2 separate regions of the Homo sapiens genome follow, and region 2 is linked to region 1. Evidence: fine-mapped expression QTL. A gene starts in region 1. The other region holds a variant in brackets. All regions are shown on one strand. Distances are from middle to middle.

What was found.
Region 2: its variant is fine-mapped to the expression of ADAM15 in whole blood (INTERVAL, PIP 0.98).

The regions. Positions count from the first base shown.
Region 1 is chr1:155,039,477-155,055,856 of GRCh38, reverse strand. ADAM15 (ADAM metallopeptidase domain 15) reads right to left here and starts at 4,541. Exons shown (of 23, transcript NM_207197.3): 1 at 4,392-4,541; 2 at 3,080-3,186; 3 at 2,364-2,440; 4 at 1,869-1,947; 5 at 1,631-1,707; 6 at 1,351-1,543; 7 at 5-67. The coding sequence starts at 4,470. DCST1 (DC-STAMP domain containing 1) reads right to left here. Exons shown (of 17, transcript NM_152494.4): 5 at 16,326-16,380; 6 at 15,233-15,372; 7 at 14,244-14,460; 8 at 14,000-14,143; 9 at 13,001-13,122; 10 at 12,348-12,505; 11 at 9,865-9,964; 12 at 9,637-9,732; 13 at 9,371-9,497; 14 at 8,545-8,661; 15 at 7,928-8,070; 16 at 7,687-7,800; 17 at 4,927-5,240. The coding sequence ends at 4,989. DCST1-AS1 (DCST1 antisense RNA 1) reads left to right here. Exons shown (of 4, transcript NR_040773.1): 2 at 6,496-6,588; 3 at 9,702-9,897; 4 at 10,004-10,666. ADAM15-EFNA4 (ADAM15-EFNA4 readthrough) reads right to left here and starts at 4,541. Exons shown (of 26, transcript NR_176418.1): 1 at 4,392-4,541; 2 at 3,080-3,186; 3 at 2,364-2,440; 4 at 1,869-1,947; 5 at 1,631-1,707; 6 at 1,351-1,543; 7 at 5-67. RefSeq lists a silencer at 4,377-4,836 and an enhancer at 5,307-5,366.
Region 2 is chr1:154,788,199-154,799,423 of GRCh38, reverse strand. All of the region lies in intron 2 of KCNN3 (potassium calcium-activated channel subfamily N member 3), which reads left to right. Among named protein-coding and RNA genes, the nearest start is that of KCNN3, 76 kb to the left of the region's middle. RefSeq lists an enhancer at 7,650-7,959. The variant G/T (reference allele first, on the strand shown) is at 6,059.

The sequences.
Region 1 (16,380 bases):
TCACCTCCGAGTGATCAGCCACAATCACCAACTCCACAGTCTTGGTCTCTGTTACCACATCCCGCCTCTACTATGGACAAGAAGAATTATCAGGCAAACCTGCCGCTCGCAGCCAGCAGCTGTGCCGGGCTGACCAAGAGGCAGCCACTCCTACTCTGTGGGTCAAATAGGAGGGTGAAGAGCCCATTTTACAGATGAGCCACTGAAGGCCAGAGGGCCCAGGAACTTGCCAAGGAGGACCAGGAAGTAGATAATGAAGGTTGGAGTAGACCCCTGCTTTTCTGGCTCCAAACTCAGTGGTTTTTTTCAAATTTTTAAAAAACAGTAATTTAGCTGGGTGCGGTGGCTCACGCCTGTAATCTCAGCACTTTGGGAGGACAAGGCGGGTGGATCATGAGGTCAGGAGATCGAGACCATCCTGGATAACACGGTGAAACCCTGTCTGTACTAAAAAATACAAAACATTAGCCGGGTGTAGTGGCGGGCGCCTGTAGTCCCAGCTACTCGGGAGGCTGAGGCAAGAGAATGGCGTGAACCTGGGAGGCGGAGCTTGCAGTGAGCCGAGATCATGCCACTGCACTCCAGCCTGGGAGACAGAGCGAGACTCTGTCTCAAATAATAATAATAATAATAATAATTTTTAAAAATCCCAATAACAACTCTTGTCACTTACCATAGGTCTGGCATAGTTTTAAGCACTTTACATCTATATGGACTTATTTAATCTTCCCAGCAACTCTATGCAGCAAGTAGTTTTATTATCTTCATTTTACAAATTAGGAAATTGGGTTTATATTGCTTCATCATTGGTAACTATGTATTATCTATAACCAAGTGAGAGCTCTCTGCAAATGGGATCATAAGACAGATGAAGAGCCAAATACAACTAATAAATGGATAGGCCATTTATTAGTTGTAGGGCCTCGGGCAAACCACCTAATCTGTCTCAGCTAGATTTTATTTTATTTTATTTTTATTTTATTTTTTGAGACGAGGTCTCACTCTTTCACCCAGGCTGGTGTGTAGTGGCTCGATCTCGGCCCACTGAAACCTCTGCCTCCTGGGCTCAAGCGATTCTTCCACTTCGGCCTCCTGAGTGGCTGGAACTACGGGTGCACGCCACCATGCCCAGATACTTTTTGTAAGGTTTCGTCATTTTAAAATAGAGCTATTGATAGCACCTACCTCCTAGGTATGGGAGGAGTACACGAGCTAATGTTCACAAAGTGCCCAGCATGTGGAAAGTGCTCCATTCGCAGGAGCTGTTGTTACTGTGCACACATAGCTCTAAGTGTCTGGGGATCAGCCCTCAAGACAACCAAAGCCCACCCCCCTGCCATTCATCCTCACCCGGCGAATGTGGCGCTGTCCCAGGGGGTGCTCTGGTGGCTTCTGAGTGTGTACAGATTCCCGCCAGCTCAGGGCACAGGTGTGGCCTGGCAGGTGGAGATCTTGGATTCGCGAAATAATGGGAGGACCCTGAAGGTCCCCAGGCCCCTGCTCCAGGGTATAGCTTCTCTCTGGGGTCAGGACCACCAAGCCTCTAAGAAAAAAGAAAGTCAGAGAACATTTCAGCTCCATGCCTGGGTCTCCTTACTTTCTCTACTGTCATTAAATCCGCCCAGTATACCTGAGCCCAGAGCAGGTGCAGATGGACACCCAGGAGCCTGCATATCCCCGCACTCTTCCCTGGTAGCAGCAGTTCTCCTGCAGCATGGGAACAACATTAGTGCTGTCTCAGAGAGCACACCAGGACTGGAACTGAGGAGCCTAGCTTGACGGTAAAAATATGCAGTGTCCTCTCACCTTCCAGCCACCCCCTCCCTCTTTCCCCTAAGCCAAAAATGGCACAAGAGGGCCTGACTCACCAAAGTGTGTCCCTCACTGACCACCCGAGTGCCATCGGGCTGGTACCACACCAGGGTTGGGCGGCCTGGGACCAACTCCCTGTGGAGTGAAGAAAAAGAAGGCAGTGCTAAAGCCACTTCCCAGGTCGTGCATTGACAAGCAGAGGCTTGAAGGTGGTTGTGGGGCTGGGGACCAGGCAACCCCCGCAGCCAACTTTTCCACTCCTGACCCCGGGGCAGCAAAGTATACTGGTTGGGCCACTGACTCTGTTAGTTTATTTGAATTCCAATCTGGTTTTCACCACATACTAGCTGTGTGACCTGGGGCAAGTTATTTAATCTCTCTGTGCCTTGACTTCCTCATGTATAAAGTGAGGACAATAATACATGATAGTATATCCCTTATAGGGCTGTTATGAGGATTAAATGAGCACAAGCACTTAGTACCTGGCACATAATAAATGCTATACAAGTTGTTGGCCATGTGGTCACTGTTATTGCCACCATCACTATTACCTATTCTGTAGCAGCTCCAGGATATGACTGTCACCGTCCAGCTCCAACTTGATCCTCAGGGGCTCAGGCAGACTGGTCTGTGGGCACCAGAGGGCAGGTCACCTCCCTAGACCTGTCCACAACTCCCAGCCTCTCTAACCAGAAAACCTCAGGCCCACAGAAGAGCACCAGCAATTAGATCACTGGTGGGGGGATCCCAGGGGAGGGGCCAGGAAACCCTGCCTGGCCTGGAGCATTGTTCTGGGGGGTTGTGTGCGGAGGTCAAGGAAGGTATCTGAGCCACCCCTTCTCGGCTTCCTGCCCAGAGAGGAAGCACCGTGTAGGACCCAGCACAAGCCCCAGCCCTTCCTCTGACTCAGCTTTAGAATGGGGTGGGGGGGGGGGGGTTTGGTAAGGTCCTGACTCTTTCCAAATCCCCCCACTGAGAAAACCGACAACATGAGATGAAGAAAGCAAGTTTGGCTTCACAATTTCCCCAGTGGAGATGGATGGGTTGGGTGGGGCTGAGGCAGACAGATACACGTGTGTGCAGAGGGAGAGGGAGATAAGTGAAGCCAGGTGCTGGGGTGTGGTGGGAGAGGCAGCTGGGCCTGGGATAGACCCACTACAGTGAGCTCTACCCACCAGCTCCTCAGCCAAGCTTTGGCTTTGAGACACCTGGCTATACCGGGGCGTGTGTGGATTCGTTTATTTATTAGAGGGGAGTGAGAGCTCACCTGAAGCACCTTTTTGAGGCTAATTGGGAGATCGTCCTGAAGGACCTGGGGCTCCAAGGGCTCCCTCGGGGCCTTCTCTGACTCTGCCTGCTGCTCCTCAGTGCCACCTGCAGGTCCCAGGACACCCCAAGACAGTACTGAGGGAATCGACAGCAGGGCTGGGGGTGACAGGTGCCCTCAGATCCACCAGCTCCCAGCCCATCAAGACCCTTAGGTACCTGAGGGGCTTCCACATTGCATGCTGAGACTTAAAGAAGAATACTGGAAGGAGAGGGTGTCTCTCTAATTTATGGCTTTCCACCCACCAACCCATTCACAAGTCCCCAAGAAAGACTTTCGGCTTGCGCAGCCTGTGGCCCTCCTTGTCCCCTTCCGGCCAATCCCAGGTTCTCACAGGACCCTCCCCGGTTCCCACTCCCTCCCAATCACTCTCCCCCCACTTCAGGAACGCCCCCTCTCGAGACTGAGCTAAGCCTTGTGGCCGGGTGCCCGCTCACCCTCCCCTTCGCTCACATCGGAGATGCCAGGAACGCCCATTTCTGGGTGAGCAGTGCAAACACCCCCACCTCCCTAAACACCCTCATGCCCAGTCAGGCACACCCGCTGCCTACAGCCTCTGCTTCCTCCTCGAGCACCCCCCACCCCCCCAACACACAATGGCCCTCTCTCCTCCGGACACTCCACCCGCGCCTGCCCTCTCGGTCCCGGCCCAAGACAGCAGCGGGAAGTGAAAGTTCCAAGGAGGAGTTGGTGTCCCAGCCTCTTTCCTGGCCAATTCTCCCTTCTCCTGGCTCATCTCGGGCCCCTCCCGCTCGGCCAGGCACTGGTGGCAACAGCACCAGGGTGAGGAGTGCCTGGCGGCCCCAGGCCTGGAATAGAGGCTAGAGAGAATCCTCTTCACTAAACCCTACAAGCCATGCCCGCTCAGCGCCCTGGCACCGGGTCGAACGGTTAGCTAGGCCCCAGAGCAGCGAAGATGCCAGTCCTGGGGAGCAGCGACCCTCTCATCACGATCTTGAAGTGGCGCTGGACAGGCCCCTCGGTACCTGGTACCTGAGCCTGAAAGTGTCCGCAGGGACCGCGCAGAGGATGACCAGGCAGGAGGCAGGGGGCGCCGGCATCCCCCCTCCTTCTCTTTTCACCCCATCGCCAAGTCACCGGGCCCTAGGCCCAGGACAGCGGACCAGGGCGGGCCGCGCTCTGGCTGGGCTCTCCCAGGGTCTCCGTCCGGCCCCATTACCCTAATGCCTTCCGACTTTCCTGCACCTCCCTCCCAGTCCGCCCCCCGACCCACTCCAGGCGGAGGACTCACCTATATTTGGGAGCGGCCAGGAAGGCAGAGGGCTGCCCGCGCCCAGGAGCCCCAGGGCCCAGAGCAGCGCCAGCCGCATGGCAGCGGCGCTCCGGGCCGGGCGAGGGCAGCAAGTGCGGAACAGCGCGCGGAGGAGCGGCCGGCGGCCAGGTCGCCTCGGAGAACCCAGCAGCGCCGCGCGGCCACCAGGCCCCGCCCCGGCCCGCCCCCTCCCACCCGGCCCCAAGCCAAGCTCCGCCCCCGGCAAAGCCCGCCCCGCTGCGCGCCGGGTGCCTCGGGAGCGGGGACACCGCCCACTACGCCCGCGCTGCTCAGCGCTACCGCTTCCCCGCAACTGTGCGGAGTGGGAGCCGGTGCCCGGTCCGACCGGCTTGGGCGGCGCGCCTTCACCCGGCGCCAGGTCCGGACCCCTCCCTAGTAGCTTCGCGGCCTCCCTGCCTCCTGTGCGCGGCCTGGCTCGGAGAGGTCGGGCGGGCAGGCTTTCCCGACTGCAGGCGAGGCAGTGCGCGGCTCACCCCAGTCCCCGACCCACGTGAAGCGTACAGGGCATTTTATTAACCGGGAAGGACGGTGCGGAAGAGCGAGCAGGACGCCTCTTCACCCCGCGTAGGCAGTGTCGTCGTTGCTGTCACTAAAGGCGGAGGAAGAGAGCTCTTCGCGGGGCGTGCAGACCGGGCACCGCTGCCGCATGTCGTCCCAGCACGACCAGCAGTACACGGCCTCGCAGTCCAGCGTCCGGCACACGTAGGACTCGGGCGTCTCGGGTGCCTGGCACACCACGCAGCGCCGGCACAGCCAGCGGCGCAGGAGCGGGCAGCCGCGGTGCAGGATATCCGCCAGCGGGTGGCGCTGTTGGGAGGTGGGCGTTAGCGCCAGCCCGGGAGCGAGGCGGGAAAGAAGGGGAACTGGACAGCGTTTCCTGTCTGAAGTCGCCAGGCCTGACAATTCCCGCGTGTTGGAGGAGGCTGGGTTGGACAAAGGAAACCCCTGGAGGGCGAGGGTGCCTCCCTCCCCAACTCTGTGATGGAGAATGGGAGGATGCACCCTCCAGGCTCTCTCCAAGCGGATATCAGCCACAACTCTCATTTGCACTTTCCTGTAAATCATCTTATTTGGTTCTCACAGTGAGGCTGAGAAGTGAGCAGGCCAGATCGACTATCACTGTTGCTATCCCCACTTTACAGTTGAGAAAGGTGAAGTGACTCTCAAAGTCACACAGATAGTAAACAATCCAACTTGGCTGGACCCCAGGGGCCCTGATTCCAAACCACAAACCTAGTTCACTATGCTCCCTGCCATCCCTCACGACATGTCTCTACACAGTTGTCAGGGATTTTCCACAGGCCACCTTACCCAGGAAGCAGCCACTCTTTGCCCAAGAAACTCCAGAGGCCCTGCTGCCTGCCAGACAGGCAGAACTCTTGGGCTTGGCCTTCAGAGCCTTCCCTCACCTGGTCCCTTTCTAGCCTCTTTCCTACTTTAGCCCTCCCTGAGAGCTGTCTCTTCTGAGCCAGTTTCTCCTGAGACTAGCCCTGGCACTTCGCATTCCCTGTGGACTGAGTCTTTGCACATTCTGCTTGGAATGACTGTCTGGCACATTTCCATCTGTGCATTCACATTCAGTTTGCTTCACGACCCTGTCAAGGAATCCCAGCATGTTCTTTTTTGTTTTTTGTTTTTCATTTTTTCACAACACATTCATTTGGCCCCTATTGTGTGTCATGGGGGCTGGGGGTATCCAGGCCCTAGGGAAAAAGCTAAGCAAACACAGTCTCACTTTTATGAACTTTGTTAGGACTGATTAAATAAGAATGGCTGCCACTCATTGTTTATAATGTCAGGTCCTGTACTAAGATACTGTACATAAATTATTTCAATTCTAAATTAGCCGGGCGTGGTAGTGTGTGCCTGTAATCCCAGCTACTCGGGAAGCTGAGGCACGAGAATCGCTTGAACTGGGGAGGTGGAGGTTGCAGTGAGCCAAGATCACGCCACTGCACTCCAGCCTGGGCGACAGAGTGAGACTTAGTCTCAAAAAAAAAAAAAAATTCAATTCAATTGTCATGTAAGGCAGATAGTGTTATTATCATCTCCTTTTTTTCAGGTGAGAAAACTGATGCTTGGAGATGTGATCACTGCCCAGGGTCACCCAATGATAACATGCATGCATATGGAACTTGCTGCATGCCAGCACCATGTAAGTACAACTCATTTAATCCTTAAAACAACCAGATGGAGTAGTTAACCCCATTTTATGGAAGGCAAAAGCCCAGGCACAGCAGTTAAGTCATGTGCTCAAGGTCACACCGTTGTCATAGTAATGAGGGAAGGAGCCGGGATACACACTTAGGCCCTCTGGCACCGGAGTCCCACACCTGACCACCACTCTAGGCTGATCTCCAGTGAGCAGGCCTTACAGATCTCTCCAGTCTTGCCATTCTTCAGAGGGAGAAACTGAGGCTCAGTGAAGACCTTGGCCAAGGTGACACAACTTAATGAGGGAGTATGGACTGGAGTCTGCTTCCTCAGATTCCATGTGCCTTACCATGTGCCCCTGCATGAGGCCTTCCTGACTCCCAGCCCACCTGCCTCCTCCTGTCCCTTGAACTGCACTGAGCTTCTGGTCTGCAGCCCTCTGGTAGAAACTTTGGTTTTGCCTTGGGCCTCCTGTTTCTGTGCGGCCCTCTTGCTTTTCTATGAGCAGACTGTATTAAATCTCATTCTCCTTTTCTGCCTGCTTCCTAATGGTCCACTGAGTGTCTTAGGCTGGGCTGAATCCTGGGATTCAGAAACGGGCACAGCCCTGACCTTAGGAGCTGGATGGCTGGGGCCCTCAGCATGTGTTGCATCAGATTACACCGGGCTTGGCTGGGCTTGGTGGCTCACGCCTGTAATCCTAGGACTTTGGAAGGCTGAGGTGGGCAGATCACCTGAGGTCAGGAGTTTGAGACCAGCCTGGCCAACATGGTGAAACCCTGTCTCTACTAAAAATACAAAAAAATAGCTGGGCGTGATGGCGTGTGCCTGTAATCCTGGCTACTTGTGGAGTGGGGGGCTGAGATAGGATAATCGCTTGAACCTGGGAGGCAGAGGTTGCAGTGAGCCGAGATCGTGCCACTGCACTCCAGCCTGGGCGACACAGTGAGATTCCATCTCAAAAAATAAAAAGAACTTACCAGGCTCGAGTAGGCCTGCGACCATTGGTGGGTGCTGGGTGGACTGAAGGGAGCTGCCCCTTGCCTGCTGTACTTAGACCCAGCCAGGAGCTGGCAGCAGCACTTACGCCTGGACTTACCGGAGCCTTCTGCTGTCGCTCCCGCCTCAGGATAGCGGCCCTCCTGAGTTTGGTGAAGGCTGCTCTTTTCTTCAATAGGTCATTGTAGAGGAACAGGATCCGCTTCTTCTCTCGCTGGGGGCAGGAAGGGGGTCAATGATAGAGAAAGGCATCCCCCAAATATGGAGTTGGTAGGGAGCTGGGTGGTGTGTGTGTGTGTGTGCAGGTGTGTAGGGGTGGAGAGGTCTGGGGAGGGGCAAACCTTGGGGAAGTAGAAGGCTGCGATGACCCTCCGGAGTCGGTAGCCAAAAGCCTGTAACAGGCAGAGACACACTAACAGGCCAATCGGTACTGCAGCTCTCCAGTAGGCCCTGGCATCCAGGCCCACAGGCTGGGGCAGGCAGGCTAGGGGAGGGGCAGGCCAGGGGTCTGGTCAGGACCAGCCAAGGGGCAGGGCAGCCCTGGGTTGGACTTCCCATCCCAGTGGGAGGTGCAGTCCTCTGATTCCCCTGCTCTCCTCCTGCCTGCCCCTCACTGCAGAACTGCCCTGTCAGTACTGTAGCCGCTGGGCCCAATGTGGCACAGATCTTGCAGATTTCTATCTTGACTGAATGTCCTGTTGGACAGTGCTGCTCTGGAGGGCTGGGGCCCCCTAGCCACAAGACCCTGGCCTCCAGACTCCTCTGACTGAAGCTGGTCATGCTCCCCTTTTTCAAGCCTGCCCAGATGTGTTCCCTGCTCCGATTTCCCCAGCTCAAGCGCTCCAACCCCCATCTCTCCACACCCAAGGCCCAGGCCCCTAACTCTTTACCTTGGAGTCTTTTGACCCTTGCCCCACCGCCCTCGATTCCTCTGATCCAAACTTTCAGCATCACTCACGCATGTTGTTTGATTCCATCACTGTCTCTGAGGAGGTGTTCAGGGCCCCAATGGTTTTTCGAAGAAGCCGGGCTAGCATGGAGTCTCCCCCGACCTTCACCTCCAGTTTATGACTGCCTGCGGCCAGGAGGACAGGTAGGGAAGTCAGGGCAGGTGGAGAAATCAGGAATGTGTTAAGGGGGTGGATGTCAGGGAGGGGTCAAGACACAGAAATGCTTCTCAGCTGCCTGAGTCTTTCTGTCCCTTCCTGAATCCTAACCCCTCCCTGCTCCCAGTTGTAAGTGTAAAGGGGTACAGAGCCCCCCTCCCCTGCTGTGAGAGCTGTCAGGTTGCAGGGCTGTCATTTGACCTTGAGGAGGACAGGGAGGGGCTGAATCACAGAAAGGGGAAAAGAACAGGCAGAAGGATGGCTGGCACAGTGGCACACACCTGTAATCCCAGCACTTTGGGTGGCCGAGGCAGGTGGATCACTTGAGGTCAGGAGTTCGAGACCAGCCTGACCAACATGGTGAAACTCTGTCTCTACTAAAAATAGAAAAATTAGCTGGCCGTGGTGGCTCACACCTGTAATCTCAGCTACTCAAGAGGCTGAGGCAGGAGAACTGCTTGAACCTGGGAGGTGGAGGTTGCAGTGAGCTGAGATTGTGCCAATGCACTCCTCCAGCCTGGGTGACAGAGCGAGACTCTTTGTCTCAAAAAAAAAAAAAAAAAAGAGGCAGAAGGACGAGGCACAGTTGGAAGAACTAGGGTGGGGTGGCTGTGCAGGCATTGGAGTTCTCCAGAGGGTGTCTCTTGGGCCTGGAATGTGTCTGGGGGATGGGCTTACTGCGGAAGGAGTACTGCAGGAAGGAGTGGTGGCGGATGGTGTCGAAGATGGAGTAGAGAGCCCAGTCCAAGCCACACAGCACCACCAGCAGCAGCAGAATGGGCAGTGTCTCCAGGAGCTCCCTCACCTGGCCAAGGAGCAGGAGGGGCAGAGCTGGGCAGTGCCATCTGCCTGGGCACGGAGCACTCTCTGGTGCCTTTTACCCTCCACCCTCACCTTCAGGCCTGTCTTTGCACCCAGGAGTCCGCTCCCCATGCTGTCCTCACCACATTGCTCATTTCTGAGGCCTGGATGGTGGGCTTGCAAGGGAAGATGACGGTTTTCTCCTCAGCTTTGCGGAGTGGCAGCAGAGTCCGTTTGCCCTGGAAAACAAATGTCCACACAGTTAGGAAGCCCAAGGGCCCTCTGCCCTTTCCTCTCTGCCTTCCTGGAGCATGAACCCACACAGGGCACACAGCAGCAAGGCATCCCCGGGCAGTGCCGTGCCCACTCACCAGCTTCTTCCTGCGGTCATCGATCTGGCAGAAGTAGGTACTGATGTAGATGTTGTCAAAACGAATGTCATGGTTATAGCTGTCCATGTAGGAGAAAGACCTGTGGGTGGATGGGCAGGGATGTCTCCATCTCTTCCAGGTTCTCCTCATCTATCCCCAAACATGGGCTTCCTTGAGGCACAGTCATTCAACCAACCAGCCAGCATTCATTGAGCACCATCTATGTCCTGGGCACTGCTAGGGGATGGTGATAACAGGGAGAAGACTCTGTCCCTGCCTTCCAATTGTGTAGAGGAAGACATCCCCCTACATGATGGGTGAGACATAGCAGAAGTGAGTAGGGGATGAGGTGGGGGCTCAGAGGAGGGCATGGTCAGCCTGTCTGGGAGGGAGTTGCATGTGTGCATCTGAGGTAGGGACAGGCATGCATCTTACAGGATGAATATCGAGCAGAGTTACAGAGAGGGGGAAACTCCTTGAGGTTTCAGGAATCACCTAATCCACTGTGACTCACAAATTCCTGCCTCTTGGCTTTGCCTGCAGCATATCTCCTGGAAGTGTGCTGGGGCAAAACTCATCCCAGACCACCATCTCCATCCTCCCCCAATACACCCTGGCTCTCCCTGGCTACCCTTGAGCACGGTGCACGTGTGCATGGGTGCATGCCTGCATATATAGCTATCCCCCATGTATTTCCCAAAGCCCTACATAATGCTTCAGTTTGCTAAGGAAAAAATGTTAATTACTGCAAATGTGTTTAAAACTGTAAAAGTACATTAAACAAACTCTGTAAAGTGTGAAACATTAGTTTCAATGCTATTGCTTCTGGGGCCCTGTAAAAATCCACATCTTTGCCTTTAAAACTACTGTAAGTGCAAAGACATACTGTGAGTGCCCTCTTGTGGAGAGGCTCACAGAGGTGGTGCCTGGGCTTCCTGAGCCAGGGCCTGCCCTCCCGCCAGCTGTCCTTTCAGTGCATGACCTCACCCAGCTTGAAAGCCTGGAAGTAGCTTTTGACTCTGTGCCTCCTTCCTTCCCTCCACAAGCTGGCTCTGAGCCTCGCTGCACCTTTCCCCTTCCCCCACCATCTCAAGCCATCTTCCTGCCATGCTCTACCCGGGCCAGGCTCCCTAACCTCCAACCCAGCCTGGCCTCCCGCCCTCCCTCCAGACTTCCTGAGGCCATCTTGCCACCACCGCCAGTTCCAGGTCTTCCTGCAGGGCTTTCCAGACTGTTCTGGTCATGCCCACTTCAGTTCTCCAGGCCAGCCTCTGCCCTCTGCATCCCATGGATACCAGGAGCCTTACGCAAGGGACACCCTTCTTTCCTTGACCACCGTTCCGCATCTGCGGCCATTTGGAGCCCAGTTATTGCCCTTCCAAGGGGCACCTTCCCAGCTCCCATACACGTCTCAAAAGCCAATCCATAGAATGGCCCTTGAACCATCTCTGTCTTGTGGGTGTCTCATGATCCCAACTAGATCATTAGCTTTTTTTTTTTTTTTTTTTTTTTGAGACAAGCTCTCACTCTGACACCAGGCTGGAATGCAGAATGCAGTGGCACAATCACAGCTCACTGCAGCTTCGACCTCCCAGTGATTCTCCTGCCTCAGCCTCCCAAGTAGCTGGGACTACAGGCATGTGCCCCACACCTGGCTGATTTTGTTCATTTTTTGTAGAGACGAGGTCTCACTGTGTTACCCAGGCTGGTCTCAAACACCTCAACTCAAGCCATCCTCCCACCTCGGCTTCCCAAAATGTTGGGATTACAGGAGTGAGCCGCCATGCCTGGCGATCATGAGCTTATTGGGGGCAGGAATAGAGCTCCTTCATCTTTGTCTTCCCATGGGGCCCTAGATACACACATACCCACTCACTTGCAGTCACTCTAGGCCCCCCACATAGGGGCAGACAGAGCAACAGCCCTGTGGCAGCCCTCACCCAAGCCCTGCCCATCTCAGGTGTTTGGGAGTGGAGATGGGAAATAGAGGGTCCAGAGACCAGCAGGGGAGCTAGAGCAGAGCAAGGCCCGGGGCAGCCCAGCTGGACACTGGGCTGGGTGGGGTTGAGGACTTTGTTCTAAATGGAGGGAAAGTCGCTGCCAACGCAGCAGGCAGGAGAAAATGAAAGCAAAATGGAAAGATAAAAATGGCACAAAGTCAGAGCCAAGGGGAATATGAAGGGCAAGAAAAAATCAAAAGTCAAAGCTAAACGTAAAAAAAAAAAATCAGTATTGGGATAAAGGCTGGAAGGAGGTGGATGAATGAAGACGGTTGGCCTTTTAAGGCAGTGGGAACATGGGTAATGTTCTTCTGACAAAATGTCCACTTTTCCTTTAACTTTGTGTAAACAAAGACAAAGGTAAATAATATTCAGATTCAGAGGTGAGGATAGGTGCTAGGGTTCCATCCTTACAGCCTCCCTCAGGGCAGGGCTCCAGTCCGGGGCAGAGGAGGGGCTGCTGGGGTGGGGACTATGGCTCACGCATGCAGGACCAGCAGGAAAGTGCAGGAGAGCAGCACGTGCAGCAGCCCCAGGGCCCACTCCAGCCGGGCCTCCTGGCGGTACACGTAGTCCCGCACCTCGGTGCTCACGCGCTCCCAGCTTGTGTTGAGCCCCAGCACCCCAGCCTGCTTCTCTTCCTGGTGGAGGGCACATGAGCAAACTCAGCCTGCGGCCACCTCGTCAGACCTGGGTCCCACCTCTTCATGACATCTGTTCCCCAGTACCCCACTTGTGTCCCTGGGGCCCTCCCAGGACCTCTAGGAGTTGTCACTTCCTTCTGCTCACCACCCTCCTGGACACAGTCTTGCTCCCCTGCACCTACATCAGCTGACATCATCTCATATCTGGCTGATAGCTCCCACCCCAGGCCAAGTCTGCACAAACCACAGGCTTGGCACTGTCCCCTCCTCACCACCTTTCCCCTCCCCTGCCCATCTCAGGTGTTCGGGGGTGGAGATGGGAAACAGAGGGCCCCCTCAACACCAGCGACATTCCCCCTCCTTGTCCCCCTCCCTCACCCCTGGTCACCTCTTTCCTGTGCCCTCTCACTTGTCCTTCCTCTAGCTCTATTCCCTCATGCCCTCCTCCCACTCCCTATCTACCCCCCACCAACCCTCGCCCTTGCCTTCTACCTTGAAGTCAATATTGGCTGAAAATTCCCCATCCAGGCCACGAATAGACTGGTTGAGGGAGTCGTAGGTCTGCCCAAAGTTGCCTTCCACTGGGATGCGATTGCGGCACCAAACCTCCATCACTGGTGAACAGTGGACGGGGTCAGGGGCCTCCCCGGGCCTGTCCTCCAGGTGCAGGCCTGGCCTGCCTGTCCTCCTGTAGTCCTCCTCATCCTGCTTTTTTGTCTCTCTGCCCATGGCTTGCTACCACACCAATGCTGAGTCTTCCCCTCTCTGCTCTCTTTGGATCCTGCCCTCCAGGAACCAGACCTGAGTTCCCTCATTTTTGTCAATCTATCCTCAACCATAACAAACATCAGTAAGGAGAGCCAGCGTTTACAGAGCAGCTCCTCTGTGTGCCAGCTCTGCCACTGCCTTCACATACGTTAGCCCCATAAATCCTTAAAAGCCCTTAATGTGGCTGGGTGCGATGGCTCACACCTGTAATCCCAGCACTTTGGGAGGCTGAGGTGGGTGGATCACCTGAGGTTAAGAGTTCAAGACCAGCTTGGTCAACGTGGTGAAACCCCGTCTCTACTAAATATACAAAAATTAGCTGGGCATGGTGGCGGCCACCTGTAATCCCAGCTACTCAGGAGGCTGAGGCAGGAGAATCGCTTGAACCCGGGAGGCAGAGGTTGCGGTGAGCCGAGATTGCGCCACTGCACTCCAGTCTGGGTGACAAGAGTGAAGCACCCCGTCTCAAAAAAAAAAATTAATGCAAGAACTACTGTTATTCTGCCCATGCGCATCTTTCAGATGAAAAGCCACAGCTCAGAGCTTTGCTGTAACTCACCCTGCGTCACAGAGCTATTCAGCAGGTGGAGGGCTCTAAGGATGCTGTGGCCTCAGGGCCAAAACCCTCCTCATCTGTTGCTTTCCTGCCTGTCACCTACCAGTGGGTCCCAAGGACTCAGCTCCCTACCCCGATGCTCCCCACCCCTTTGCAACTGTGCAGACCCTTGGCAATGCCACAGAAGAACTTGAACTTCATAGGCAGGCAGAGCAGGTGGGTGAGGAGTGGGACCCAGATGTGCTTCATGCACTGTTCATGCTTGCGGTCAAACCAACGACGGCAGCTGAGTATGGCCTGGTTCACCACATCTGTAGGAAGGAGCAAGGGTGTCTGAGGTTCCCACATCTTGATCCACAATGCTGGCCCCACATCCCACCCCACCCTCCACTCCCCAGGGATACCCCTCACAGGAGCAACGCAGCTTGGTCTTCAGCTCATACATCTTCTGTGTCGACAGGTGGAGTCTGGAGGCTGGGGCTTGGCGGGCCTCCCTGCCCTGGGCTGTCTCCCCTGAGTCCATGGTATCCTCAGGCGTGTAGCCCGTCTCACTATTCACCTGGGCATCCAGGTCCTCAAAAGTGGCGGAGATGTTCCGAGTCTCTGCTCTCAGCAATTCTTTGCTACTCTGGGATTGGAGGTGGAGGGAGGAAAGGGTGAGGGCTGGGGCTTTAGAACTTCTGCTGCCTGAGGGCCTGTCCTCCCCCAGTAGCCAAGCTTTGGGTTCTCACCCCAGGCCGACAGGGAGCCTAGGCCCTGAGACACAGCCTCTCACCTCAAATTCCCGGCTGTCCATTGCCCTTGGGAGCCCCCCCACCAGCTGCCTTGTCTGATGCCACATGTCCTGGCTCTGCGTACCTCCCAGACTCTCAGCTCTTCCTCAGTCCTCCCATCCCAGACCCTTCCTGGTCAGTGGTTCCCCAGGTCCTTAGACCTTACCCTTCACCACTAGTCTCTGAGATCATTATGCCATCTGAATGCCCCCAACTTCCAAACCCCTCAGCCCCCATGTCCCCAACTCTCCAGCTCTCCAATTCTCCCAAACCCCCAGTCTCCAGCCTTCCAATACCCAATTCTTGAATACTCTTGTCTTCGAAACTTCTGAGCTACTCAAGGCCAAAGCCCCCAAATTTCCTAGATATTCTAGTTCAGCTGTCCAGAGTACTGACCACTCAGGTATTAGGAAATGTGTATAGAGCATGTCCTAATGACTCAGGGGCTCTCCTGGCATTTAACACCAGGACCAGGGCACGTTCTGCAATGTTTGGGAATAGTTCTGCAAAAAATGCCAGTAGTATCCCCATTGGGAAACTGTAAATCCAGGGTGACAACTCCCAGCTCAAGTTAACTTGGCCCCAGGGAGAGGGACCCCCCAGGCTCTGCCTGTGCAGATTCCTGACCAGCAGGTCCTTGAACATGGCCCGTAAGGGGGCTGTGGAGATGCGCCAAGCTGCGCGGGTGTTGTTGATCTGCAGCTCCACGGTGCAGCCCAGCGATGCGATCACGTTGTTGAGATTGTGTCGCAGATTGGCTACTGGCCCTGGAGAAAGAGGCCCTGGTTGGTCACCTCCCTGTATAACCAGCACTTTCTCAAACCCGCTCAGCTTCCCTCTGCAAATAGTGCCCATCGCCTAGAACTATACAGTGGTGGGGCCGAGAGCCTATGAAAGGTCAACTTGTTCAACCTTTGATTTTTTTCACTGTTTTTTTTTTTTTTTTTTTGAGACGGAGTCTCCCTCTGTTGCCCAGGCTGGAGTGCAGTGGCTCGATCTCTGCTCATTGCAACCTCCGCCTCCCGGGCTCAAGCGATTCTCCTGCCTCAGCCTCCTGAGCAGCTGGGATTACAGGCACACGCCACCATGTCTGGCTAATTTTTTGGTATTTTTAGTAGAGACGGGGTTTCAGCATGTTGGTCAGGCTGGTGTCGAACTCCTGACTTCGTGATCCGCCCGCTTCGGCCTCCCACAGTTCTGGGATTACAGGTGAGCCACCGTGCCTGGCCTTTTTTTTTTTTTTTTTTTTTTTTTTTTTTTTGAGACGGAGTCTTGCTCTGTCACCCAGGCTGGAGTGCAATGGCGCAATCTCGGCTCACTGCAGGCTCCGCCTCCCAGGTTCAAGTGATTCTCCTGTCTCAGCCTCCCGAATAGCTGGGACTATAGGTGTGCACCACCATGCCTGGCTAATTTTTGCATTTTTAGTAGAGATGGGGTTTCACCATGGCTGGTCTTGAACTCCTGACCTCAGGTGATCCACCCACCTCAGCCTCCCAAAGTGCAGGGATTACAGGCATGAACCACCGTGCCTGGCCAATGTTTTCACTCTTATAAACTGAGGAGGCCCAGATATGGGGAGGAGCTCCCTCAGGGACATACAGTGAGTTAGAGCAGCTGGGATGACACTCCTGTCTTTTCTCCTTCACCCGGCCTGGCTCCCATTGGATGACCCACCCAGGGTCACTGCTTCAGTGTAACTCACTGGCCCCCACATACTCACCCACATAGATGGCAGCCAAGGCGTATCCCAGGACAAAGAGCCTGCCTTCCTTGCC
Region 2 (11,225 bases), 250 kb after region 1:
CCTGGCACTGCTGTGCATTCATCCAATGAGTGACAGTGATCTTGAGCCCTTGACCTAATCCGACAGTGTGACCTAATCCCACAGTATGACCCAATCCATTTGGCATTAATGCTGGCTGAGACTGGAGACCACTGACCTCTTTTCCTTTCAGTTTGATCATATAATAAGAACTGTGTTAGTATAAATCATTATTTAAAGTGTGCTTTAGGCCAGGCATGGTGGCACATGCCTGTAATCCCAGCACTTTGGGAGACTGAGGCAGGCAGATCACTTGAAGTCAGGAGTTCGAGACCAGCCTGGCCAACATGGTGAAACCCCATCTCTACTAAAAATACAAAAATTAGCCAGGCATGGTTGTGCATACCTATAAACCCAGCTACTTGGGAGGCTGAGTCAGGAGAATGGCTTGAACCCAAGAGGCAGAGGTTGCAGTGAGCCAAGATTGTGCCACTGCACTCCAGCCTGGGTGACAGAGTGGACTCTGTCTCAAAAAAAAAAAAAAAAAAATGCAATAAGTGTCAGTGTTGTGTAATTGACTGTTAGTTCATAGCAATGGTCTCACCAGTCTGCCCACAGTATAGTGAGGTGGTAGGATGGAAGGCCTGGAACTAGAGACTAGGATTTGAATTTTGGCTCCACCACTTCTTAGTTGTGTAACTTCACACACTCTGTAAGTCTCGTGCCCCTAATCTGCAAAGTAGGTACAGTGTCAGTGCCTACTCATTGAGTTTTTGTGGGGACAAAACCAGAGAATGCTTGTGATGTGTTTGTCACTGTGGTCCCCATTACCCTTAAGAAATGTCAGCTCTTTTCTTTGCTCTTATTACTACATTAGTGTAAACAATGTCTCCCATAGAGGCTGCTCCTGAATTAGTAGTGTATTCTTGCCATAAATTACACTTGGGAATAGCCTGATTAATAGTCAGAGATAAGAGGCCTAGGGTGTAAACTCCACCAAATTGTTCAATGTGTGAGACTTTGAGTTAGAAGGCTTGGCGAATGTCCTGCCTCGCTATTTGCTGCCTTCATGGGTATAACTAATATACCTTCTCCTCATCTGTGAATGGGGATAATGATGTTCCTGAGCTATGGAGAGGACCAGGCAAGCACTGTGTGTCAGAGCACCTGGCATAGGGCCTGGTACAGGTCAATGCCCACCTATTTTCTGTCCTTCCTTTCTTCCTGTTTGTTCAAACCAGGTCTGAGGCTAACAGATGTGTCTTGGTGAGTCCAAGAGGGTGGCTGGGCCATAAGGGTTGGGGGAGTGGAGAAGTGGGGCTACCAGTTGCTGCTGGCAATTTGCAATATCTACCCTGTCCCAGGAATTGTACCCTGGCCTCTCGGGATGATTTAGTATGGCAGTCATGGAGCTGAAAGTTACAAATGGAGGCTCCAGTGATGGAGCTGGATTTCCTGTTCTATTTAGTCCAGAGCCCATGTGGAGGATCCAAGACAATTAGAGCCAGAGAGTGCTGGAGAAGGCCTCAGTGATCATCATCAGACCATCCTTCTTATTGAACAGATGAGGAAACTGAGGCCTAGAGAGAGAAGACACCTAAAAGTCCACACAGCAAGTTACAGAGACTTGCTCAGGCAGAGCCACACCCCTGTGTCCACGCCTCTGGTCCTTCTAGGTCTCTGGGGTCACACTGATCAGAATTCCTCCAGCATCTGCTATATGCCAAGCTTTGTGTTTCTCATTCAATTCATTTACCAAAAATTGAAAGAGTGCTTACACTGTTCCTGGCACTGGGGACACACTAATGAACAGGACAGATATGATCCCTGCCCTCATAGAGCTTCCAGGCTAGTGGGAAGGCACAGGGACAGGCAATAACAAGGAATCAATCAAATAAGTCCGTGTAAATTCAGATGCAGACAAAGAACGGAATGTGGCAGTGATGGGGGGTCATGGAGGAAGAAATGAATTAGGGTTGTAGCTTCAAGGGCGACCTCTGAAAGTTACTTTGGTATTGTGAGATTTATTTCTATTAATACTTCCTTTCGCTATGTACTACAGTATTATCTCCTCAGGAAAGTGAGGCTCAGAGAGGTTAATTAACTTGCCCAAAATCACACAGCCAGTCAGTGGAGGAGTCAGAATTCGAACCCTACTCTGCCTGACTCCGAAGTCCAGGTTTTTTCCACCATCCTTGATTATCTACAGAAATTAGGACAACCTACTACAGAATGTCAGGTAATATGGTAACCATTAGTATGAGCATTAAGGGACCCCAAGGCCAGACCTGTGAGCCCAGCCTCACTGCTGTCTCTGTCTCCTGTTCTAGGGGGAGGGACGAGGTGGATATTCTAGATGGTCTTACCCTCTCCTCTCCTTCGGAGACTGGCTTCATTGGGAGTGAGATGACACTGTCGCAGGGCTAGCTTTTTGTAGGCCACTAGTTGTCGCAGGCTGCTGATGAAGCCAAGCAGATCACCCCCATGTCCACAAGCACACCGGGATTAGATACATTTAAGTCCTAGATCCCAAACGCCTTTTTCATTTCTGGTTTTGCATTTGTTTCCATTCTACTATCTTCATTTGGAAAACCCTTTCATTCCTCAAGAAAACAAGCCACACAATCAAAAAAAGATGTGTCTTATCCTCTGGGCGCTGCCTCATTGCCTGCCCCATTATTGACCAATGCCACCGGAGTGCCTTGCACAGCTTGGCCAGCGTTCGCTGTGCACATCGACCGGTGAGCTGGCATGCTGACAGCGGCAGGGGCCCCCAGCTTCAGACACTTCTGAACCCAGCTGCTTTACGGACACAATCGGTTGAATCGGTTGAATCATGACTTGTCTCCCAAACCACAAATTTGTAACTAGTTCACCGTGAGCCTATGCAGCCAGATGAATTGTAACTTGGGCAGTCCCTGCACCTAAATTTTTTTTTTACCCAATAAAAAATGATATCTAGACATCTCTGTGTGCATGAAAGCATGTCTGTACGTGCGTGTGTATGTTTGGCACCAATGGGAAATACAGAGACGTGGAATGCCAGCTCTGCCCTCAACCTCTTCCCAGACGGGTGGGAGATGATATTCTGTGGACTGTAATTCAAAGAAGACAGACTAATAACAAAGAGCTATGGAGACCAGGGGAGGGGCAAGAATTCAGATCTGGAGTGGAGACCAGGAAAATGGTCCTGGGAGGCCAGACTCTTGGAGAAATGTGGACCTGGCAATAAGAATTTATGAGCTCTTTCTCCGTCACTGCTGAGTGTATATCTTCCAAGGTATTTTCCAGTGGGCATAAATTACCTTTCGATTGCAGTATTCGCCACCTCCACTCATCCCCCAACACCAGGTCTTATGTGGACTGTTAGGGAAGCCTCTAACTTGTACCCTGCCTCCTCACCCTTTCTGCACCACCTCACCTCATCGTCACAGCTGTGAGGAATCCAACAGACACACACACTGGACCTTGTCCTTGTCTGAAAACTTTTGGCTGCTCCTCCTTGTCCTTAGAATACAGTCTAGACTCCCCAGGGGGGCAGATAGAGCCCTCCAGAATTGGCCCTGCCCTGCTCTGCGGCCACATCTGTGCCATTTCCTCCTGGAACACTGTGCCAGTCAACCTGGAGTCCCCTGTGCCCATTACCCTGGAGTCCCCTGTGCCCCACAGGTCCACGTCTCTGGGCCTCTGCATGTACTGCTCCTCCTTCCAAGTGCTGTTCTCATCTCTTAAGCCTGAGCTGTCCTCCCTGACCCACCCCCACCAACTTTCAGTGCCCCCACGGAGCCTCATGCATACAGACGTCTCTTGCTGCACCTCTTATATGCAATATATTCCTCTGTTTACATCACTGCTCATTTACTGAGTTATATGAGGGTGGTCCAGGCCCGTGCCTCTTTGAGTCCCCATGCCTTATACAGCATCTGACAGAAGGGTGGCTCAGGGAATGTGTGGCACAGCAGTGAATGATGTGCAGCTTCCACCGTACTTCCAGACATGAATTGATGGTCCTGGAACCTTCAGAGAAGCCTTACCACGTTGTGATCAGTAGGTGGGGGACTCGACACTACCACTGCAGAGGTGGCTTTGTGGGGTGGCCCCTGTGTGTGCTCTTATGTTTGCAAAGTGCGTTCTTTCACGCAGTCAGCCTACCAATGGGTGACCAGATTCTTTCTTCAGAAGCCAGTCAGAAAAGGGACTTGGCTTCCCAGATTACGCAAAGGCAATCTAATCCCAGACCTTCAGTTTTTGGTTAGCCAGCGGCTGCACAAGTGTCACAGACCACAGGGGCTGGGCGACGGGCATGGTGGTCCCTCTGCTTTCCTGGGCACGTTAGGATGTCATTCTCTCACAGGACTCGTTTCAGAGAATTTTCCGTGTAAATGTGAAAGACCTAAATTTATGCCTGTCTCAGTAACTAAGTATAGGCTACTTATGGAACCACCCAGCTATGGGAAATCCAGCCATGACAACTAACTGTGAAGAAATAGCCCCCCTTATTACACAGAGCAGACATCCTCAGGGATTGGATGAAAAAGAGCTCTCTAGGAAGTCAGTGAAAACGAGCTCCCTGCCTCCTCAGAGTATGCCTGGTCAATGTGTGACAGGCTCGCTACTGGGTTCCCATGCTGCATCCATAACAGACATAACCAATCGATCCCAGCATTCTTTCTAGATGGGCTCAAAGTCCTTCCTCCCTCCAGTGCCACCTCCATGCACAATGCCTAGCCTCAGGCATACTGCTGCTCCTGCACCTCTGTGAATGAGCCCTCCACAGAGGTCCACCTTTGGTCCATGGTTGATCCATGGACCAAAATGCCTGTTCCTTGTGGGCCTCAAGACAGCTGAATAATCTACTAATTCAAAGGGAGACCAGAAAGGCAATAGTCAAAGATAATAAAGAGCATAACAATAGTCTACCCTCTATAATGCAAGTTTTTTCTCCTCTCAGAGGGTCCCTGATCCCATCAGAGGACTCAGTTCTTCACAAGCAAGACTGATCTTGCAGCAGAGGGCTGATGGAGTCATTTACATGGAGAGCCAAAGAGAGTCTCTCCCACCAGGACCTTGAGCTCCTTTGAGGTGTGCCTCATTTTTTCATTCATCAAGTGTTTATTAAGCATCTATGTTTAAGGGCAAGCTCTGGGGAAAACATGGACATAGAAACAGACATGGTCTCTGTCCTCAAGCAGCTTATAGCCTCAGAACAGGCCAGACATTAGTCAGATAATTGCACAAATGACTGTAAAATTACAACTGTGGTAAGTACTCCAAGGAGCCTAGATTGATCCAGTCAGAGGATGAATAGGATTAACTTGACATAGAGTGAAGGGAAGAACATTCTAGGCAGAGGGAACAGCATTCGGAAAGATTGTGTGTCAAGAAGGAGATGAGCACAACAGCCTTGGTGGTCCTGGGAAGAGGATTTGTCTACATTCTACGCACAACAGGAAACCACCAGGCAGAACCTCTAGCCCTGGGACAGTGCTGTGCACATTCGAGGGCTGGATGCATCAGTGAGGAACAAAGGCATGCATGGGGGAAAGGATCCAGTGTGATGGAATGACGGATGCTCTCCCACCCAGATTATGTGCAAACCCTGGAATGAATCCGCCTCCACACTGACTTTGGAGATCTGGGGCAGGTCGGGTTTCCAACTGCAGGTCTTTAGTATTCCTTGACTAAGTCAGCTTAGTCAACTACGTTAACGAGGTCAAGTCAAGCTAAGTTAACTACTCCAGCCATTCTTAGAGGTATTTCACTGCAGGCTTTTTGTGTTCTATTTCTGCCTTTCCCCCCACAACAGTTGGGTAACAGTCCCCAGCATAGTGAATAAGTTCTGTAAGATTTAATATTGATTTGTTGGAGTTTTTAAAAATTGAAAGTATAATTAATGATTTATTGCTACTTTGCAGTTTGCATTAATCACTGTCATTAATGGTAATCCTTTTAGGTGGTTTATAACTTTTAAATGGAGTCTGTTAATTCCCAAGCCTGGTGGCTTTGTCTCTAGGCTGCATTGGGGTCTGCCACCCTCCCATGCCCCCGACATCCCTCCCCATCACCCCATTTGCTTTAAGATACAGGGATGAAACTCCAG[G/T]TGTAAACTTTTCAGGGTCAGCCTCTTACCAAGGAACAGACATTTGGGTACCTTCCTGGCCAAGAGGAGGGGTGGTGCACAAGCTGGCTCTGGGCCTTTGCTGTGGGCAGAGAGAACCAGGCCACTGCTAGCTCTTCAACCCACTACTTCATTTACAACTCTCTGACTTTGTATTCCCTGGTTTGCATGTCTGACACCTCACTTGGCACATGATTTATTACAGCTTTTCAATAGCCCGTTCTTTCTGATTGACCTGTCCATCTCCATTTGGAGTGGAAAGATTGGCTTCTAGGTGTTTGTGGTGAGAATATTCCTGAGTGCGATGGTTTGGGGTTAGGAGCTTCCTGCTCTTGGTACAGAACCGAGGACCACAACTAAAGGAACTCCCCTTTCTCTGGCTGGGAAATGAAAAGGGTGGGGAAATACACACTAGAAGTTGCCTGAGACCTGGCTGAAGGAGAGAAACTTTCTGTTTTGCCAACACCTTCAGGGATAGAAAAAAAATCAAACTTCTGCCTGCATCACAGGCAAGGGAAGGCAGCTCAATGGAAACAGCATGAAAAGAACTTCGGAGCCCATATAGGTCAATCCCCTGCTTCTGGGGTGGGCATTCTCTCCCACATGAATAGGTCCAGATTTCATTTTGAAAACATTTCCCTGGGAGGAATCTTCCCTCAAATTCTCTCTCTTTCCGTCTCTACCCTTCTTCAAGGTTTGACAATCTCTCTAACCAAAATCCCTCTTGCTGTAGTTAGAGCCTCTTAGGGACCAGTTAAACTGGAATAAGGGATGGCCATAACAAAACATGCAAATTCCTTTTCCTTTTAAAGAGAAATATGTCTCCTGGATATTACCTGAATAAACCCATCAGCTTGCTGTTACTTTTCTGGGATTATACTTGATGAGGATGGTTGCAGAAAGTCCTGTAAACATCTTCTATAGTCTGTATGGGGAGGACAAGTCCCACCTGTTTCCAGTGGAACATTCTGATTCCTGTTGTTACTCTATATTTACAGAGTGGGCTCCACTAAGAGCCCACCTCCTTCTGTCACTGGTGGAAAGGCTATTTAATATGATCCCAATTAGAGGGAGGAGGATCTGGGATGGTTGTTGGAACATGGCAGACGGGGGAGACCCGGAGGGAATAAACCACCCCAGGATGCTGTGTGACCACCTGACCCTCTGCAAAGCAGCATCGTGGCACTCTGTTCCCTTTCAAGGTTCCCACAGTGAGTGCCACCCATTTTTACCACAATGGCAACAGGATTTATGCTCCCACCCACTCTCAGTTCTGAACTTTCTATGGCTTTGCCCCTCATTGGTCATAAAACACGTGTCACCTGCCTCTCTGACTTGGCTTTTCTTGCAATTACATGGTTTCCTTTGCGATCTTCCTGGCCAGTGGAAGCAGAAGGATGCTTTTACAGACAGGGTATTATAGATGGGTTGGCAGATGAGGTGATTTCTGAGGGCCTGGCACAATGCCCAAAGGGACGTGAGTCAGCTCTCAGAGGAGGTTTGGTTTTTCCTTCCAAATTCATACAAACAGCAGTGAAGTTTAAAAGATCCTCAAGTGGATTACAACCCCCATTCATTTGGCAGCAGAGGAGCACAACTGTCAAAAAGTCCAGGTACTTTAAGCTGTGGAAGAGGCACAGAGTCACTCTCAAGTTGGACAGGGCTTCAAGCTATTTCTAAAATTAACATCGGGGCCTTTCGTTCCCTTTCGAGGTTCCTTTGAGGAATGGGTGAAAGCCACCTCTTCTTGACCACAGCAGTGACTGGATTTATTTTTGTCCTGTCTTCCTCCTCCACATTCTCAGTTCTCGAGGCTTTTTATTGTTTTTGGTTTTAGCCAGGCTTGGGCTGGTTGCTTACTCTCCGGTGTGCAGGGCTTCTAGAAGTGTTAGCCACAGCCAGCGGGAGGCAGCCGATCACCCATCCCACCTGCTGAGCTGTCGCGGGCAGACATCTGTTGAGCTCCTCCCCAGCACCAGCCGCAAGAATGTACCTGATGTGGTCTTTGCTCTGCAAGAGCTCTCAGTTTAGAGCAGTCTTTTTGAGAAAAAAAAAAAAAAAGTGGTATGATACACGTAATATAAAATACCATCCTAACTTGTTTTTTTTTTTTTTTTTTGAGATGGAGTCTCACTCTGTCACCCAGGCTGGAGTGCGGTGGTGCGATCTTGACTCGCTGCAACCTCTGCCTCCCAGGTTCAAGTGATTCTCCTGCCTCAGCCTCCCTAGTAGCTGGGATTACAGACATGCACCACCATGCCCAGCTAATTTTTGTATTTTTAGTAGAGATGGGGTTTTACCATGTTGGCCAGGCTGGTCTCGAACTCCTGACCTCAGGTGATCCACTCACCTCGGCCTCCCAAAGTGCTGGGATTACAGGCGTGAGCCACCACACTTGGCCTCATCCTAACCATTTTTAAGTATATAGTTCAGTGATGTTATGTTTACTCATATTGATGTGCAAACAATCTCCAGAACTCTTGTCTCCTGCAAACCTGAAATTCTGTACAGTATATACATGGGGGATGTGTTCCAAGATCCCTGGTGGATGTCTAAAACTGCAGATAGTACCGAATCCTACAGAGAGAGATAGTCCCAGATTTAACGATGATTTGACTTAAGATTTGTCGACTTTATGATGGTGTGAAAGCAACACACATTCAGCAGGAACTGTACTTTGAATTTTGAATTTTGATCTTTTCCTGGGCTAGTGGTATGCGGCATGATATTCTCTTGTGATGTTGGGCAGCGGCAGAGAGCCCCGGTCAGCCCTGTGATCACGAGGGTCAGCAACTGATACAGTACTCTACCGTTTACAGTGTTCAGTAAATCACATGAGATATTCAATGCTTTATTATAAAATAGGCTTTGTGATAGATGATTTTGCTCAAATGTAGGCTAATGTAAGTGTTCTGAGCACACAAGGCAGGCTAGGTTAAGCTGTGACATTCGGTAGGTTAGGTGTATTAAATGCATTTTCTACTTACAATATTTTCAATTTACAACGGGCTCATCAGGACGTGACCCATCATAAGTTAAGGAGTATCTGTAATGCTGCAATGAACATGGGTGTGCAAACATCCCTTTGATACTCTGCTTTTAAAAGCAAGTGTTCTTGGCTGGGCATGGTGGCTCACGCCTGTAATCCCAGCACTTTGGGAGGCCGAGGCGGGCAGATCACCTGAGATCAGGAGTTCGAGACCAGCCTGGCCAACATATATGTTGCCATATATGTAGCGAATCCTCATTTCTCTACTAAAAAATGCAAAAAATTAGCTGGGCATTGTAGTGCATGCCTGTAGTCCCAGCCACTTGGGAAGCTGAGGCAGGAGAATTGCTTGAACCCAGGAGGCAGAGGTTGCAGTGAGCCAAGATCGCACCACTGCACTCCTCCAGCCTGGGCGACAGAGCGAGACTCTGTCTCTCAAAACAAACAAACAAACAAACAAACAAACAAAAAAAGCAAGCATTCCTAACCTGGGGCCCGTGAACTCCCAGAAACTAGCTGCAATACATGGTGTGTTTCTGTAAATGCTTCTTGTTCTAGGGAAAGCAAATTCATAGCTCGCATCAGGTTTTCAGTGGGCTTAGGATGTCAGGAGGGCTCAGTCTAGAGAGTAACAAAAGCAGCACCTCCTTCGGAATCCCCCAAGGCCCTGCCTGTCCTGAGTGCCGCCTCTCCGATGGCAGGGCAGGTGTGAAGGAGCAAGTCATTCACTTCTTGGTTCCTGTCCCAGCTGTGCCATTTACTACCTGGGTGACACTTGGCAGTTCAGCTGACGTCTTGGAGCCCTAGTCTTCAAATCTGTAAAATAGAAATAATGACAACGTCTTCCTAGGATTGTTAGGAAGATTAAACTAGATTTAGCACAATGGTCAAAAGCATAATGTGGTAGGCTGAATCATAATGCCCCCCCCTGCCCCACCGACCACCACCCTGCCAAAATATCCAGCTCCTAATCCCTGGATATCCTGGCAAAAGGGACTTTGCAGGATGTGGTTAAATGAAGGATCTTGAGATGGAGGAGAGTATCCTGGGTTATCCAGGTGGGATCTAAACGTAATCACAAGTGTCTTTGTGAAAAGGGAGGCAGAGGAAGCTACCGAAGAGGAAGCAGGACGAGTGATGGTGAAGCAGGAGGCTGGAGTGGTGGGAGAAGAGGCTACGAGGCAGGGAAGGCAGGCCCTCTCTGGAAGCTGGAAAAGCAAGGAAACGGATTCCCCCGCCTGATCTTCGGGAAGGAGCCAGCCCTGCGGACAACCTCCACGTTAGTCTAGTGAAACTGATTCCACACATCTGGCCTCCGGAGCTGTAATATAATAAATCTGTGTTGTTTTAAGTAATGTGTTACAGCAGCAATAAGAAATGAGTGTACGTGGACTCTGGGGCCAGACTGCCTGGGTCTGAGTAAACCACTTACCAGCTGTGTGACCTTGGGCATGTCACTTAATCTCTTCATGCCTCAGTTTCCTCATCTTTCAATAATAAGGCCCACCACAAAAGGGCTGCTATGAGGAGTAAAGAAGCTAGTATGTGTAAGTCATTGAGACTAGCACCCGGAACCTAGTAAACGCTGTGTTAAGTATTTGTTAAATAAAATAACTAAAAAGCACGTGAAGGTGGCTGGCTCACAGGAGGCTGTGGGGTGATGCGAGTGGATGCTGACGGGTTTGGCGGCGTGGGCTGTGCTCCGTGGAGTCAGTTCAGGAAGGCAGGGGAGTATTTGGTGCCTCTCAGGAAGACTATGGTAATCTTCATGAAAATGAACCATGGATGCTTGAAGGAATGAACCCTCCATTGTCTGTTACACTGAATGCCTCACACCCTGCATTTCCCAGTGTTCCTTGAAATATTAATAGCTGTTACTTCAAAACAAGAGTCAAGGTCAAATAAGTTTGAGAAACTGCATTTCAAAGCCGACTTGTTTTCTTTTCTTTAGAAGTCTCAGAAGCTTTAATATGCTAATGAGCCTGATGAATCTCTGAGAAGCATTTTTCAAACATTTGGCCACTCAACCACTTTGTATGGTGCTTCCAACATGGCCAGCACTCGGCAGAAGGCGCCTCAGAGCAAGCCTGTATACCTGTGCCTGCTACAGAGGTGTGTGAAGGTGGGACAACCCATCTGAGAGGCAGTGTCAGGGGCCTG